Homo sapiens: one gene and its partners. The protein of the gene in region 4 purifies or fractionates together with the protein of the main gene of each other region. This does not show direct contact. Each region holds a gene or a part of one and is shown on either strand. Other genes may lie near its edges.

Region 1 (4,154 bases), on a different chromosome or scaffold from region 4:
TTGTTGTTGTTGTTTTCAAGTTTTATCATTTTTGTTCCTATTTGGTTTTGTCGTTTTTAAATTGAGAATTGCTTCTAAAACAGAAGACATGAAAAGAGAATTAAAAATACAATATATGTGTAAGATAGAATTATTCAACTTAGCATTTATTAAACATCTACCAGATGATAGACATTAGAAATAAAATGACTAGCAAGACCTGGCCCTTCCCCTCAGGGGTTCACAGAATGGCTGGAGCAACTGTCATATAAGCTGTTATGAAGTGCAGAAACTACACAGACATTTGTGCGGGTTCAGACCAGCGCAATTAGAGATGGGCAGAGTGGGATGGGGTAGGGGTAAGGTGCTTGAAATTTGCCTGGGTGGGAATTTTTGAAGTATAAAAAGGACTTCTACCTGGGGGGCTGCGGCAGTAGAGGGAAGAGCACGGTCGGTACAAATGCATGGCAGGTGTGAAACAGTTTGATTTGTTCAAAGAATGATGAATCACTTAGTGTTGTATAATGGATGGGAGGAGAGAAACACAGCGATCACAAAGGGCCATGTTTGCCAAGAAATAAAATATACTTGGAAAAAAAGTACGTATGTGTATATACCACAAAACTCGGGTGCATTCTCTAGGGACCGGCGAAGCCATTCTTTCAGGAGATATGCTCAGCATTTGCCACGGGCCAGCTGCTGTTCCAGGTCGTGGGTTAGGGCCCGGCACCAGGAAGGGCGCCCCTCCCACAGGGCCGACATCCTAACCGGCGTCGCTGCGGCCGCGGAGCTGGGAAGGCCGAGGGCGCCGGGCACGTCTGTGCAGATTTCTTTAGAGTCCAGGTCTGTCGCCCGCGTCTTCGTCGGTGGCAGCAGGGCTGACTGGCCACGGCGGCCATCTGCTAGAGCGCATTTCTTCCCATGAAACGCCACCTCCTCCGAAGTGCGGAGCGAACGCAGCCAAATCTACACAAAGACTGACAAGCTGGATCCACTCGACGGAACCCAGGGCCAAAAAACGGCGGCGAGCAGCGCCTCGGGCCCGCGATTACCGGTTTTCTGAGCACCGGACAGCGTGAGCCGTGCCAGCCCTGTCTCGCCATCCCAGCCGAGGAGGGCAGCGCGATGGCTCTTCCCTGCCTTGAAATCAACCCCATTGCCAGCCGCTTTCGCCGGCAGAGCATTTTCCGTGGGGTCCATCCGGCTCCAAGGCGGCCTGCGCTGGCCACGTGGAAAGAAACACGCCCACTGCCTACAGGCCACGCCCTTCCTCCCTTCGCGCATGCGCCCCACCCGTCCTGAGGACCTCCGAACCTGCAGGGGGCGATGAAAGTAGGCTTGCGCTCCGCTTGTAGCTGCTTCCGGGTCAGAGGTCAGACGGTCTAGCGCTGCGTGGGCCATGGTGCAGCTCCGACCGCGAGCGTCTCGCGCCCCGGCGTCGGCGGAGGCGATGGTGGACGAGGGCCAGCTGGCCTCGGAGGAGGAGGAGGCGGAGCACGGGCTGTTGCTCGGGCAGCCCAGCAGCGGCGCGGCCGCCGAGCCCCTGGAGGAAGACGAGGAAGGGGACGATGAGTTTGACGATGAGGCCCCGGAGGAGCTGACTTTCGCCAGCGCCCAGGCGGAAGCGAGAGAAGAGGAGCGGCGAGTGCGGGAGACCGTGCGCAGGTTCGGAGCCCGCTGCCCGGCGGGGAGAACCGCCCTTTCTCGTCCCGCTTGTCCTTCCCTTTGCTGACTTATCACCCTTCCTCCCAGGGATAAAACGCTCCTGAAGGAGAAGAGGAAGCGACGCGAGGAGCTGTTCATCGAACAGAAGGTTAGAGGCTAGGGAGGAGGTGTCTTATTAAAACAACTCGGCTCAGGGAGAATTCCTATGGTGGATGTAATTTGGGTTGGCAGGATATTGGAGTGGGGAAACAGTCACCAAGATTGCCTCTGACAGTGGTGGAAAGATGCTCGGGCCGGGCGCGGCAGTACTTTAGTTGGACGAGGTGGGCGGAGCCCGGGATGTCGAGGCTGCCTGGAGCCGAGATCACACCACTGCGCTCCAGCCTGGGCGACAGAGCGAGACCCTGTCTCAAAAAAAAAAAGTTCGTCTCCTTTAGTGTCCACCAACTGAAAATAAGAGGTTGCTGTGAGAATTAAATGAGGTGATTTGTAAACTGTAAGGGCTGTACAGACTTAGTGTATGGTTGCTTTGCTGTCTGATACTCGACACAGAGAGCTGGCTCCAGGCAGACATTACTTAACTGCTTTCAATTTATAACAGTGACCTGAGGGTTAGAATACCGTGGGCACCCTTTCTAGTTTTCATCAAGTCTTTCAGAGAATGTGGAGTTTTGTGGACCCGGTCTTCCCATAGCTTAGAGGTATGGGGGCAGTTTCCAGCCTAATTCATTTCTTTGCCTAGATGTAGGGCATTCTTAAAAGCGGTAACTTCAGAAGCAACTCCGGACATACTATGTACATGACTTTCTATTAATTTTAAACGTTTTCATTCCAAAAGAAAAGAAAACTCCTTCCAGACACTATTTTGGAGAAGTTAACCACAGCTTCACAGACTAAGTAAGTAATGGATCTTTTTATATTACTTGCTTATATACACCCATCTTTGAATTATATACTGGTACATTTATTTGAATCCATATAACTGAAGGAATTGTAGAACCCAAATTCAAAAGCTACCTTGGTATATGAATTTGATGGGAAAGACGGAGGTAACGTTCTACTTCTTATTTTACCATTTATTTTTGTTCATTCCCATAGCTAGCTTTTGAATTCCTGATCCCATTGTGTTCATTCAGTACATTTTGTTGACTGCCTGTCATTGTACTAGGGCATAGTGGGTGGTGGTGAATAAAAAGTGTTTTGAATCATTTAGTGGGGTAGCAGGCACTTATCCACAGGCTCTGAAAACTTGATTTGTCCCATACTTGCCTTACCTGCCACCAACCTGTCCTTCCTGTTCCCCACTTCATTTAGCATCTTTGGTGTTTTATGGTTTAAAGCGAAAAGCTATAGTCGTCTTTGGGAATTGATCAAACCCTACTAAATTTAGCCTTCTAAATTTTTTTTTTTCTATCCTCTTTTTCTCCCCTTAAGGCTTTAAATTCAGAAATTCAGCCCCCTTTTGCTTAGGCCAGTGACTCTCAAGTTTTCAGTAAAAAAACTTTACCAAAGAGTTACTCAGATCCTGAATACATTAAACGTAAGAGCAAATCTATTTGGTGGCAAATTCCCTTTCATCTTTTAAAACCAAGCTCAAGTGTCACCTTTACCTTCTCATTTGCCCCCCCCCACCTCCCATCACTTCCGCTTTTGTGTGGCCTTTCTCCTGTGCAAATGCTTCTGTATTGTATTCTGTCCATTTACATTTCTCTCTCCATTGGGCCACAGCCCCCTTGAGGCTGTTCCCTGTCTCCTGTGCCTAAACTATTAAATTAATCCTTTGTGATTTCTCCAAATGAAATGAGGCAGACCTACTCCCATTCACTTCATATTTCAAATACTTTATAACTTGTTCTGAACAAGTGTTTCACTTGAACTCCATTGCCCACAGCATTTTGCTGCTTTGAAAGCCTGCTAATAGGCTCTCAGATTTTAACTGTGAAGATCTTCCAATGCTTGAGAGTTGGTGGCAGTGTACTAGGGAGTGACTATTGCTTTCCAAACTGATGAGAGCTCCTGAGTAGAAATTGAGGGTGTTGGTAATGAAAGGGGGTGTCTTACTTGTAAAGGCAAATGAAATAATATAACATGTTTTGAGTAATCTTTACTGCCATTGCAGTCAGTGGTTTTGTTTTTTTTCCTTAGCATCAAGAAATCGCCAGGAAAGGTGAAAGAAGGTATGACTATTCTAATTTAACTAACTTCTCATGTAAGTGTCAAGTGCACTTGCAGATGTTTCCAGTCAAATATGAATGGCCCTTAGAAAGCCAGCATGGGCCTGGCCAAGGTTAGCTGGGGCCTATTCCCTGTATTTCATACAAATAAAAACTGCATCCACATTGGTGTGTAGTGGATGCTTAAAGTGAACTCCAGTAAATTTCCTGATTTATTTTTACGTGAATGCTAATTAGAAAATGTAACTCTATTTTTTAGTTAATTTGCAAAAGAAAAATGAAGACTGTGAAAAAGGAAATGACTCCAAGAAAGTTAAAGTACAAAAAGTACAGTCT
Region 2 (4,232 bases), on a different chromosome or scaffold from region 4:
CTGGCCACCAGCCACACGGCCCCAGTCCTCCCCAGCGCACCTGCCCCCAGCTTCCCTCCCCAGCTTCCCTCAAGATGGCCCCTCTGCTTGACTTCCTGTCTTATGGAGAGGGTCAAGGCTTGCATCCCTCCTCCCACTCCAGCTTCAGGGGCCATCTACCTGATGCCACTCCCATCCCCAGGCCCCTCCACTGGAGACTCCTGCTAGAGCAGCCACTGCACACTTGCCACCCATGCCTGGAACCCAAATAGCGCTGAGCATCGCAAGTGCTTGGGCCAGACCCATGGAGGTGCCTCCACTCCCTCTATCCCGTCCCACGTCCTGCCACCTCCCACATTCCTTTCAGGGGCCAGCCCCTCTCCCCACCTGTCCAGCCCCTCCCCTGGGTGCCCCCAGCCTGCTGCCTCGCCCCTCTGCAAAGCCTGGCCATGCCCCCTTCCCACTAAGGGGCAAGTCAGACTTGTTAGCCTCCGGGGTGGAGCTCGCTTCCCCTCCAACCTCACTCCCAGCCCCTCTGCCTCCCCCACTGAGCCTGACTCGGCAGCATGCTCCAACTGCAGGGCCTCGGCACGGCTCCTCCTTGGTGCAGAGCTGTCCCTTGGCTCTTCGTAGGTCCCTCCTCATCATTTTCAACTCAAATGTCCCCTCCTCAGAGAGGTCTTCCCTGCCTGGCCTAGCTGGAGAGTCCCCACTCTGGGTACCCCTCAGACACGCAGCCCTGTCTCACAGGCTTCACAGCAACCAGCGGCACTGAGATGCTCACCTAGGCTGTGTCCCCCTCCTCGAGGGCAGGAACCTGGTCTCTCTAGTTCACGGTTCCTAGGAGGGGACCTGGCATATCTGAGGAGGCCAGGAGAAGGTGCTGCTTGATTGAGCTCTCTCGCGAGAGTGGGGCAGGGGCGGAGAGGCCAGCACCCACCACAGGATGCACAGGAGCAGCAGCTGATGGAGTTGGCTAAGTCCTGCTCTCCACCCCTCCCACCCAGACACCCCAGGGAGGGACATGGTGACCTGCAGCCCTCAGAAAGCCAGCATGGCAGTGCTAGGCACTCTTCGTGAACCTGGACCCTAGCTCTCCTGCCCGGGAGGAACACGCCACCAACAACCTAGATGCATCAGCGCCTGGGGCCAATCTTGGCTTCAATCGCCACACTGGGCGGCCCCAGCACCTGTATATGTGCAGGGGTTCCCACAGCCCAGGCCCTGGACTCAACAATGGTGCTCACATTCATTGGTAGCAGGTGAGGATCTGATCATGGATGAGGATGGGGAAGGCTCCCCACCTACAGTGAGCTCCTCGGGGTAGCCCTGGCCTCTTTCCAGAAGGGGCAACTCTCTCTGCTTCACCATCAGCACGGAGGACTAGAGGTTGACGGTCAGTACCTAGGACAGCGCCAAGCATCAAGCTGGCCACGCCCCACCAAGGCAAGCAGGACCCTCACTAGAGCACCAGTCCTCCCCAGCTCCTCCTGGTCCATTTCCCACCACCTCTCACTCCAGTTACAGCACCAGCCTCCTAACGGGCTTCTCTGCCTCCACCTTCACTCCCTGCTGTCAGCATCCCGGAAAGATGTGAAAATAGAAACTGAGGAGCCACATGTGTCTGTAGGAAGGGCAGGCTGGAGGCTCTGACCTCCACCTTTGTGTCAATTTCTGCGTTAAACTGAGGCAGCCTGAGGAACTCACCAGACTCACAGACCACAGAGCCGGGCCGAAGCTCCAACATCATGGTGATGAGGGCGATGTCTGTGGAGTAGAGGATCTGCGTGCGGTGCGGCAGGTTCAGCGTCCAGAGCTCGGGCGTGGGGTGCAGCACATACACCCAGCCACCTCGGCCGCACGTCACCTTGGAGCCGAAGGGGCGGCCGATAAGGTCAACTGAGTGCCGCAGGACACCATGCCGGGTCTGGGTCTGTGCCCCACGCTGCACACGCACCGCCACCATTGCACCATGGCCCAGTGACAGGATGGCCGTGTCACCCTCCTTGATCAGCTCCTCGTATGCCACGAAGCTCATGGTGCTAATGTCTGGCAAGGGCCAAGGACCTGGGGAGGGGTGTGTGTAGGCATGAGCAAGTCAGGAGGCAGGATGAGGGCCTAGGGTCTAGGTAGAAGGCTTCGAGGCCTACATCCCAGCAGTGGGCATGGGCGGGGTGTGGCTAGCTCAGCCTCAGTCTCTGCCACTGCCTGACAGGGAGCCCAATAGCGCTGCACTCTGGCCTGGCCTCTGAAGCCTTTCTTGGTCTAGGACAAGAGACAGGGACTATGAGCCTAAATCAGAGATGAAAAGACTGAGGCTTGGCAATGGCGGAGTTCGGTCCCAAGGATTCCCGGAGTGAGGACCCGACCCTCCCATCACCCTTCTCCAGGAGCTTGACTCCCATTCCCAAGATGTGAGATGAGGAAGCGCCTTTGCGAGGTGTCCACCGGCGGGGGAGAGGCAAATGGTCAATGAGGTCACCTCCAAGCCAGGCTTGATTCCTCACCCCAGTCTCCCCCACGGGGGCTAGGTGGCAGGGTATGACAGAGGATTCAGGGCTCCCCAGTAAGGGGCTGGGGACGCGGAGCTGGCCGTCCACGCAAACACCGCCCAGCCGATGCAGAGGCAACAAGGGGCCAGGCCGGGCCGGCGGGGGCCGCCCATGCGAGGCTGGAGGGACAGGCCCTGCGCGCCGTGCCCGGCCCGGGTCACCCTCACCCGCGCCCTGCCACCCTGTACCCCGCGGAGTCTCACCTGCGACGCTCCTGCTGCCGGGGCTCCACACGTGCCTCCGCGACGCGCGGCGGCGGCGGCCACAACACTTCCGGCTCCGCGCCCGCTGATGACGTCGCGCCCCGCCTCCGCCTCCCCCTCCCCCCCTCCGCGCACGGGATCCTGGGAGCGCCAGGCTGCCCTTCCCGCCCCTCCCAGAGGACGTTTCCTGGGCGACTTCTTCCCTCATGTGAGCTGCTCTGTTTACATTTGCTGGTCGCTGGAAGATCGAAAGACTGGACAAAATCCATATGGCGGCCGGCCGGCGCGGTGGCTCTCGCCTGTGATCCCGCGCTTTGGGAGGCCGAGGCGGGAGGTTCTTCTGAGCTGAAGAGTTCGAGACCAGCCCGGGAAACGTAGTGAGACCCCCACCATCTCTACAAATAATAACAAACAAACAAAAGGTCCCCCCGCCCCGCCGGCCGCGGGTTGCCGTCGCACCCAGGCACATTTGAAGGGCGGCAGGAGCCAAGGCCTGGCTGTCACTGCTGTCCCGGACCCCTTTGACGGCCCCTGGGGGTTCACCAGAGGGCTGGCCCGTGGCTCACTGCCCAGTCCTCTATGAGGACACTTCGCCATAGACATTTTGTTATTGCAGACTGCTCTGGGAACACCCCTGACTGGGCCCTAAAATGAATTCCAGAAAAGGAATCGCAGGTCAAGGGGCGGTTCTAAAAGGCTTGGGCTAGGGTCAGCCAGAGCTCTGTGCAGCAGATGGGGGCCTGGAAAAGTCTGCAGAAGTGGCCTTCCGCCCAGGCCCTGCCTCCCCCGACGGGGGCACGTTGTCCTGAGTGCAGAGCTGCTTCTAGGAGGGAGTAGGGGTCCTGTGTCCCCTCCTGCGAACCAAGGCATAATGAGAACTGGATGACTTGGGCCCACTTTTGGGTCTGGTGAGCAGCCTGGGCAGGAGACTGGAGGAGGTGCTGCTGGAGGATGGGCAGAACAGGGAAGCGGGAGTGGCGTTCTGTCTCAGCAACACCATTCCCAGCTGGCTCCTCTGTGGAGTGTGTGTGCAGGGGAGCGGGGGCAGGGGACACGGATTTTCTTCCTCCAGCTCTTAGCTCTCAGGACCAGAGCTTGGAGAGGAACAGAGACCCCCCTACCCAGCCTAGGGTTTAGCCTGCGCCCGAACCCAAGCCAGTTAGCAATGACCCTAGGGCACCCTCCCCAGTCACTCAGCCACTCCAGCCTGGTAAGATGAGGTGGCCAGGCTCCTGCAGAGCGAGCTCCCCTCTGGAGCCCTGGCAGCCTGTAGAGCACTCTCAACTCTCTCGCCTCTGGGGCAGGCCAGGCCAGGCTGTTTGTGGCCCTTGCATTGGCTTCTCAGGGTCCATCATGGAAACCTAGGGGTCCAACCTCAGCCCCTCTGTGTCCCTGCCCTAGCTGCGGCTGAGAGCCCCCAGGAGTAAGCTGGTGAGAGGCCTTCCATGGCCTCCCACTCTCTGTGGGCTCCTGTCCCTGTGGGGCCACCACGCTGGCC
Region 3 (2,199 bases), on a different chromosome or scaffold from region 4:
TATGACAGTAAGATGTATGTTGGGGGAGGAGGCAGAAACGAATGGAAGGAATAGGACGGTGAAGAAAGGGACATTACTAAAGTTGAGCATTGGTATAGTGAGTAGTAAATAAAGGTACAAAATATTAGGTCTATTCTTTAATAGACTGAGAAGTACCAGCTTGATCTAATTGACCAAAAAAAAAAAAAAATGAATTAAGAAAAAACATTTGGACGAAAAGACCAGTTGGCAATCTACTACAATGGTCCAGGGCAGAGTGCAAGAGCCACAGAGAGATAGAAGACTGGTCAAAGAACTTGGGGTTGGCCAGTCATGCAGGGCATGATAAGCCCAGGAAAGGAGGTTGGGATCGTTTCTTCTTTGGTTTTGAGGAAGGGTTTGTCATGGTGTGATTTACGTTTTGAAAACACTGCTGTGGCTTCAGTGTGATGAATAAGCTGAAGCCGGCAAGGAGTAGAGGCAGGAACAACAGTCAGGAGACCAGTGCAGGAGTCCAGCTGGATGAGGAAGATGACAAATGTCAGGCATTCCTGCCAGATGGCCAGGACCCAGACTTGAGTGGTCACCACAGAAATCAGGTGGGAGAGAAATTTGAGAGGCACCACTAAGGAGAATAATCAGAGTGTGGTGGTTAAGAAGTAAGTATAAGACAGGATGATAAGGTTTGGAGTCTGGGACCTCAAAAAAAGGAGAGAATGAAGGCTTACAGCCTGGGTGAAGCATTAGACCTAGGGATATAGATTTGGGCATCAGAACAAGGGATAAGTGAAACCAACAGATAGAACTAAGTCTCATGTGAGCATAGGAATAAATGAAAGCCACAGAGTCTTGCAGAAGTCCACAATCAAAGGTAAGTGGAGAAGACTTTTTAAAAAACCCATGATGGTGCAATGGCCCTGAAAGAGAAAAGGGTTTTAAGGTGGCAATTGTTTCATTTTATATTTGAACTTGGTTGGAAGTTTTGGCAAATGATAGGTAATCACAAAGGACAGTGCAGAGTGGTAATTAACGTCTTTTCCAAGAGACACTGCTCCCAAAGTCAATTAGAATGTACACTCTTTTGGTTAGGTAAAATTAAGTCTTGCTTTAATGAAAAAAGTTCCTACCATTTAGATTTATCACAGATAATATTAAAGCCTCTTGATTATTCAGGACAGATTGATTAATCAACTTCATTGTTTTCTACCCTGTTGTCTGCCTTAGGTTATTTCATTACTCATTAGTACTTCTGTTTGATTCTAGGCTGGGGGAAAAAAAAATCAATGGAGAAAATAGAAAGTCTTTTTTTAGGTTAGTAATTATGAAAAGAAATGTGGGGGATGATGAAGGGAAATGGATACAATTACCAATCAAATTGGATTTGGCAGTTATATGACACCTTCAGTCATGGAACCTGTTCTTGTTCCTTCAGAGCTGGTATTTCCATTTGCTTTGTTTAGTAAATATGCATCATTTGTTGAACACAGCTGCCATTTTGCCTAGTTTATGTTATTAAAAAAACAAACCCCTGATGCTATCAGGGCCTGAAAACCTACAGAGAGAACAATGTTTAGGATTCTAGTCTCCATTTTCTCTAGGCCCTATGTCACTTTATTGCTTTGCATCTGTTTTCATCAAAAATAAAAATTTCACTTTGTAATGAGTCATAAATTTGTAAAGAAAAGCTAAAATTAAACTTGTTTCAAAGTTATTACAGGAAACTAAGCATATGTTGGAATTGAAGGGATCTTGATCTCAAAAAACTTCAACATTTACTGAGCTAAATATAGAGAAAAAGACATAGTTACCCAAATAAACTCAAAATGTAATTTATTTCCATTAATAAACTTTTTTTCTGGTAATGAATATTATAAATGATAACCTTCATGTGCTCTTAGGATTCCAAACAGCTTTCAGAATCATTTTATTGCCATTTTAATGTTAAAACTTATTTATTTTCTCATTCTTTAAAAATCAGTAAATCAAGTTTAACTCTGAGTTATTAGATATTGTGTCAAAACATCCCAGTTCCTTATTGGCGTGGATGAACAAGAAGTAACTTATTGTACGAAGACTTTATTTACATATCCACTTATCTTTTTTGACTGTTTCTTGCACTTAAACACATGTAGAAATACGTTCCTAAGTACTAAACAGTTAGCTTTTGAGCTAGAAAAGAGAAAAGATAAAGACAGAATCACCAATGTCACTGCTACATAA
Region 4 (3,500 bases):
GGCCATATTAATCTTCATCATCAAAATTTTAGCACATGTCCTATGAGAGAATGTACATACCTTCTCACTGAAATTTCTGACAGAAAAAGATTTTAGGTCCATAGAAGACAGTATTCTAAATCAATTATGGGATTAGAAAAATGATGGATACATGGGATTATAAAAAAGTCGAAGTTAACATGGATCCTTAATTATATTCAATCATTAACAGGGCAAAAAGAGCCATCAATTGGAGATAAGGCCTTTTGTATTAAAATTCGTTCTGCATTTATTCCCTTATTTTATTTTTTTTGAGACCGAGTCTAGTTCTGTCACCCAGGCTAGAGTGCAGTGGCACAATCTTGGCTCATTGCAACCTCTGCCTCCCAGTCCCAGGTTCAAGCGATTCTCCTGCCTCAGCCTCCCAAGTAGCTGAGATTACAGGCACCCACCACCATGCTAATATTTGTATTTTTAGTAGAGACGGGGTTTCACTGTGTTGGTCAGGCTGGTCTCGAACTCCTGACCTCATGATCCGCCCACCTCAGCCTCCCAAAATGCTGGGATTACCAGCACGAGCCACCGCGCCCGGCCTATTCCCCTATTTTTAAGACAGGACATAGGGGTTTTTCTTCAGCAAGTATACCTAACCACTCTGTGACAATCACAATTAAAATTTTTCTGTGTGGAATGTCAAGATTTAAGAAGTACTTAGTGGTTCACACCCATAATCCCAGTGGTTTGGGAGGCTAAGGCAGAAAGATGGCTTGAGTCCAGGAGTTCCAGATCAACCTGGGCAATATAATGAGACCCTGTCTTGACAAAAAAATTTAAAAATTAGCTGAGTGTGGTGGTGCACACCTGTAGTCTCTGCTATTCAGGAGGCTGAAGCAAGAGGACCGCTTGAGCCCAGGAGGTCGAGGATGCAGTGAGCTATGATCATGCCACTGCACTGCAGCCTGAGCAATAGAGCAAGACACTGTCTCTAAAAAAAAAAAAAAGCAATCAACCAACCAATCAACAAACAAAAGAATACATGTACTCAATCTACCAAGGGTAAGCACTCATGTTAGATACTTTCATATATTTTTTTACTATCACTATGATACTTTACAGATGAGGAAATTGAGACCAGAAGGCTAAATTTTTGGCCTAAACTTTTCCAAGGCCAAAATGCTAGTAAATGACTAAGCTAGGATTCACATCTCTTCAATCTATGTCTAGTATACTACATCTCGATTCACTCTTCCTTTTCCACATGTTTAGCTACTCACTACATTCAATTGGTTCTTAGAAGACATGGTAATCACTAAAAGGTCTAACTTCATGCAGTCTCATCATAATGGAACCCTGAACACAAATACAATATATGACCAAAGACAAAAAGTGATTTTTAAAATCACTCTATAAAATTTTCAAAAGAACTAACTATTTAAAAAATGTTTACTGAGTGCTCTCTGGGTCAAGACATCATAGTAGGCAATGGAAATAAGACATGTAAGAATATTACTGATCTATCTCTATTGTCTTGAAGGGCAGTCTATTAAAAAGACAAATGTGATAAAAGAATTGTGATACAGCACAAAAAGCCAAAATGAAAAGCAAGAAATGAAGTAATCCTCAAGTTGGGTTTTGAAAGATAAGCAGCAGTCTGGCCACATTAGGGGTGGAGGTGGGATTCAATATTGCAAAGGAGGAAACAGAATGTTTGAAAGCACTGAGGCCTAACACATCACAGCACATTAAAGGAGCTCTTACATAATACAGAAATGACAGAGATTAGAGAGGATGCAAGGGTGGAGTTTAAAGGTTTCTAAGCAAGGGAGTAACAATCAAATTAGCCTTTCAGAAATCACTCTGGGGCTGGGCGTGGTGGATCACACCTGTAATCCCAGCACTTTGGGAGGCCGAGGTGGGTGGATCGCTTGAGGTCAGGAGTTCAACTCCAGCCGCCTGGGCGACATGGTGAAATCTCATCTCTACTAAAAATACAAAAATTAGCTGGGTGTGGTGGTGCCCACCTGTAATCCCACCTACTTGGGAGGCCGAGGCAGGAGAATTGCTTGAACCCGGAAGGCAGAGGTTGCAGTGAGCCAAGAATGAACCATTGCACTCCAGTCTGGGTAATAGAGCCAGACTCCTTCTTTAAAAAAAAAAAAAAAAAAAAGTCCAGGCACAGTGGCTCACGCCTATAATCCCAACACTTTGGGAGGCCAAGGCGGGCAGATCACGAGGTCAGGAGTTCGAGACCATCCTGGCTAACAGGGTGAAACCCCGTCTCTACTAAAAATACACAAAATTAGCCAGGCGTGGTGGCGGGCGCCTGTAGTCCCAGCTACTCAGGAGGCTGAGGCAGGAGAATGGCGTGAACCCAGGAGGCAGTTTGCAGTGAGCCGAGATTGCGCCACTGCACTCCAGCCTGGGCGACAGAGCGAGACTCCATCAAACAAACAAACAAATAAAAAGAAAAGGCCAGGCGCAGTGGCTCACCCCTGTAATCTCAGCACTTTCAGAGGCCAAGGTGGGTGGATCATGAGGTAAAGAGATGGAGACCATCCTGGTCAACATGGTGAAAACCCCGTCTCTACTAAAAAAAAAAAAAAAAAAAATTAGTTGGGCGTGGTGGTGCACGGCTGTAGTCCCAGCTACTCAGGAGGCTGAGGCAGGAGAATCACTTGAACCCAGGAGGTGGAGGCTGCAGTGAGCAGAGATCGCCCACTGCACTCCAGCCTTGCAACAGAGCGAGACTCCGTCTAAATAGAAATCACTCTGGGCTGTGCACTGTGGCCCATGTGTGTAATCCCAGCAACTTGGGAGGCTGAGTGGGAGGACTGCTTGAAGCCAGGAGTTCAAGACCAGCCTGGGCAACATAGCGATATCCTGTCTCTAAAAAAATTTTTTTAATTAAAAAAAATCCCCAGATTTCTGACCACGTGGAAAATAATGCAACTAAAGGTAGGAAGGTAGGAACAGAAGAAGCAGCTAGTTTTTTTGTTTGTTTTTTTGAGATGGAGTCTTGCTGTGTCACCCAGGCTGGAGTGCAGTGGCACGATCTCTGCTCACTGCAAGCTCCACCTCCCAGGTTTATGCCATTCTCCTGCCTCAGCCTCCTGAGTAGCTGGGACTACAGGTGCCCGCCACCATGCCTGGCTAATTTTTTTGTATTTTTAGTAGAGATGGGGTTTCACCGTGTTAGCCAGGATGGTCTCGATCTCCTGACCTTGTGATCTGCCCACTTGACCTTCCAAAATGCTGGGATTACAGGCATGAGAAAGAGCTAGTTTAAGAACAGATGATAGGCCGGGTGGGGTGGTTCATGCCTGTAATCCCACCATTTTCGGAGGCCGAGACGGGTGGATCACGAGGTCAGGAGATCCAGATCATCCTGGCCAACATGGTGAAACCCTGTCTCTACTAAAAATACAAAAAAAAATTAGCTGGGCGTGGTGGTGGGTGCCTGTAGTCCCAGCTACTCGGGAGGCTGAGGCAGAAGAATGGCATGAACCCGGGAGGCAGAGCTT

The links. Proteins that work in one complex are often made in the same cells at the same time.
Region 1: the proteins of SRP9 (region 4) and NOL7 purify together in Homo sapiens (affinity purification with mass spectrometry; one large-scale study listed by BioGRID and IntAct). This does not show direct contact.
Region 2: the proteins of SRP9 (region 4) and TRMT61A purify together in Homo sapiens (affinity purification with mass spectrometry; 2 studies listed by BioGRID and IntAct, with this or other methods). This does not show direct contact.
Region 3: the proteins of SRP9 (region 4) and EPB41L2 purify together in Homo sapiens (affinity purification with mass spectrometry; one large-scale study listed by BioGRID and IntAct). This does not show direct contact.

Annotation. Positions count from the first base shown.
Region 1 is NC_000006.12:13,613,981-13,618,134, forward strand, and holds the start of NOL7 (U3 small nucleolar RNA-associated protein NOL7), read left to right. Parts: upstream 1-1,354; 5' UTR 1,355-1,378; coding exon 1,379-1,644; intron 1,645-1,731; coding exon 1,732-1,792; intron 1,793-2,482; coding exon 2,483-2,541; intron 2,542-3,789; coding exon 3,790-3,821; intron 3,822-4,077; coding exon 4,078-4,154.
Region 2 is NC_000014.9:103,527,764-103,531,995, reverse strand, and holds the start of TRMT61A (tRNA (adenine(58)-N(1))-methyltransferase catalytic subunit TRMT61A), read right to left. Parts: upstream 2,801-4,232; 5' UTR 2,735-2,800; intron 2,047-2,734; 5' UTR 2,018-2,046; coding exon 1,687-2,017; intron 1-1,686. UniProt on the Homo sapiens protein: Catalytic subunit of tRNA (adenine-N(1)-)-methyltransferase, which catalyzes the formation of N(1)-methyladenine at position 58 (m1A58) in initiator methionyl-tRNA.
Region 3 is NC_000006.12:130,841,047-130,843,245, forward strand, and holds part of EPB41L2 (band 4.1-like protein 2), read right to left. Parts: intron 1-2,199. UniProt on the Homo sapiens protein: Required for dynein-dynactin complex and NUMA1 recruitment at the mitotic cell cortex during anaphase.
Region 4 is NC_000001.11:225,784,326-225,787,825, reverse strand, and holds part of SRP9 (signal recognition particle 9 kDa protein), read right to left. Parts: intron 965-3,500; coding exon of another isoform or gene 857-964; exon of another isoform or gene 841-856; intron 1-840. UniProt on the Homo sapiens protein: Component of the signal recognition particle (SRP) complex, a ribonucleoprotein complex that mediates the cotranslational targeting of secretory and membrane proteins to the endoplasmic reticulum (ER).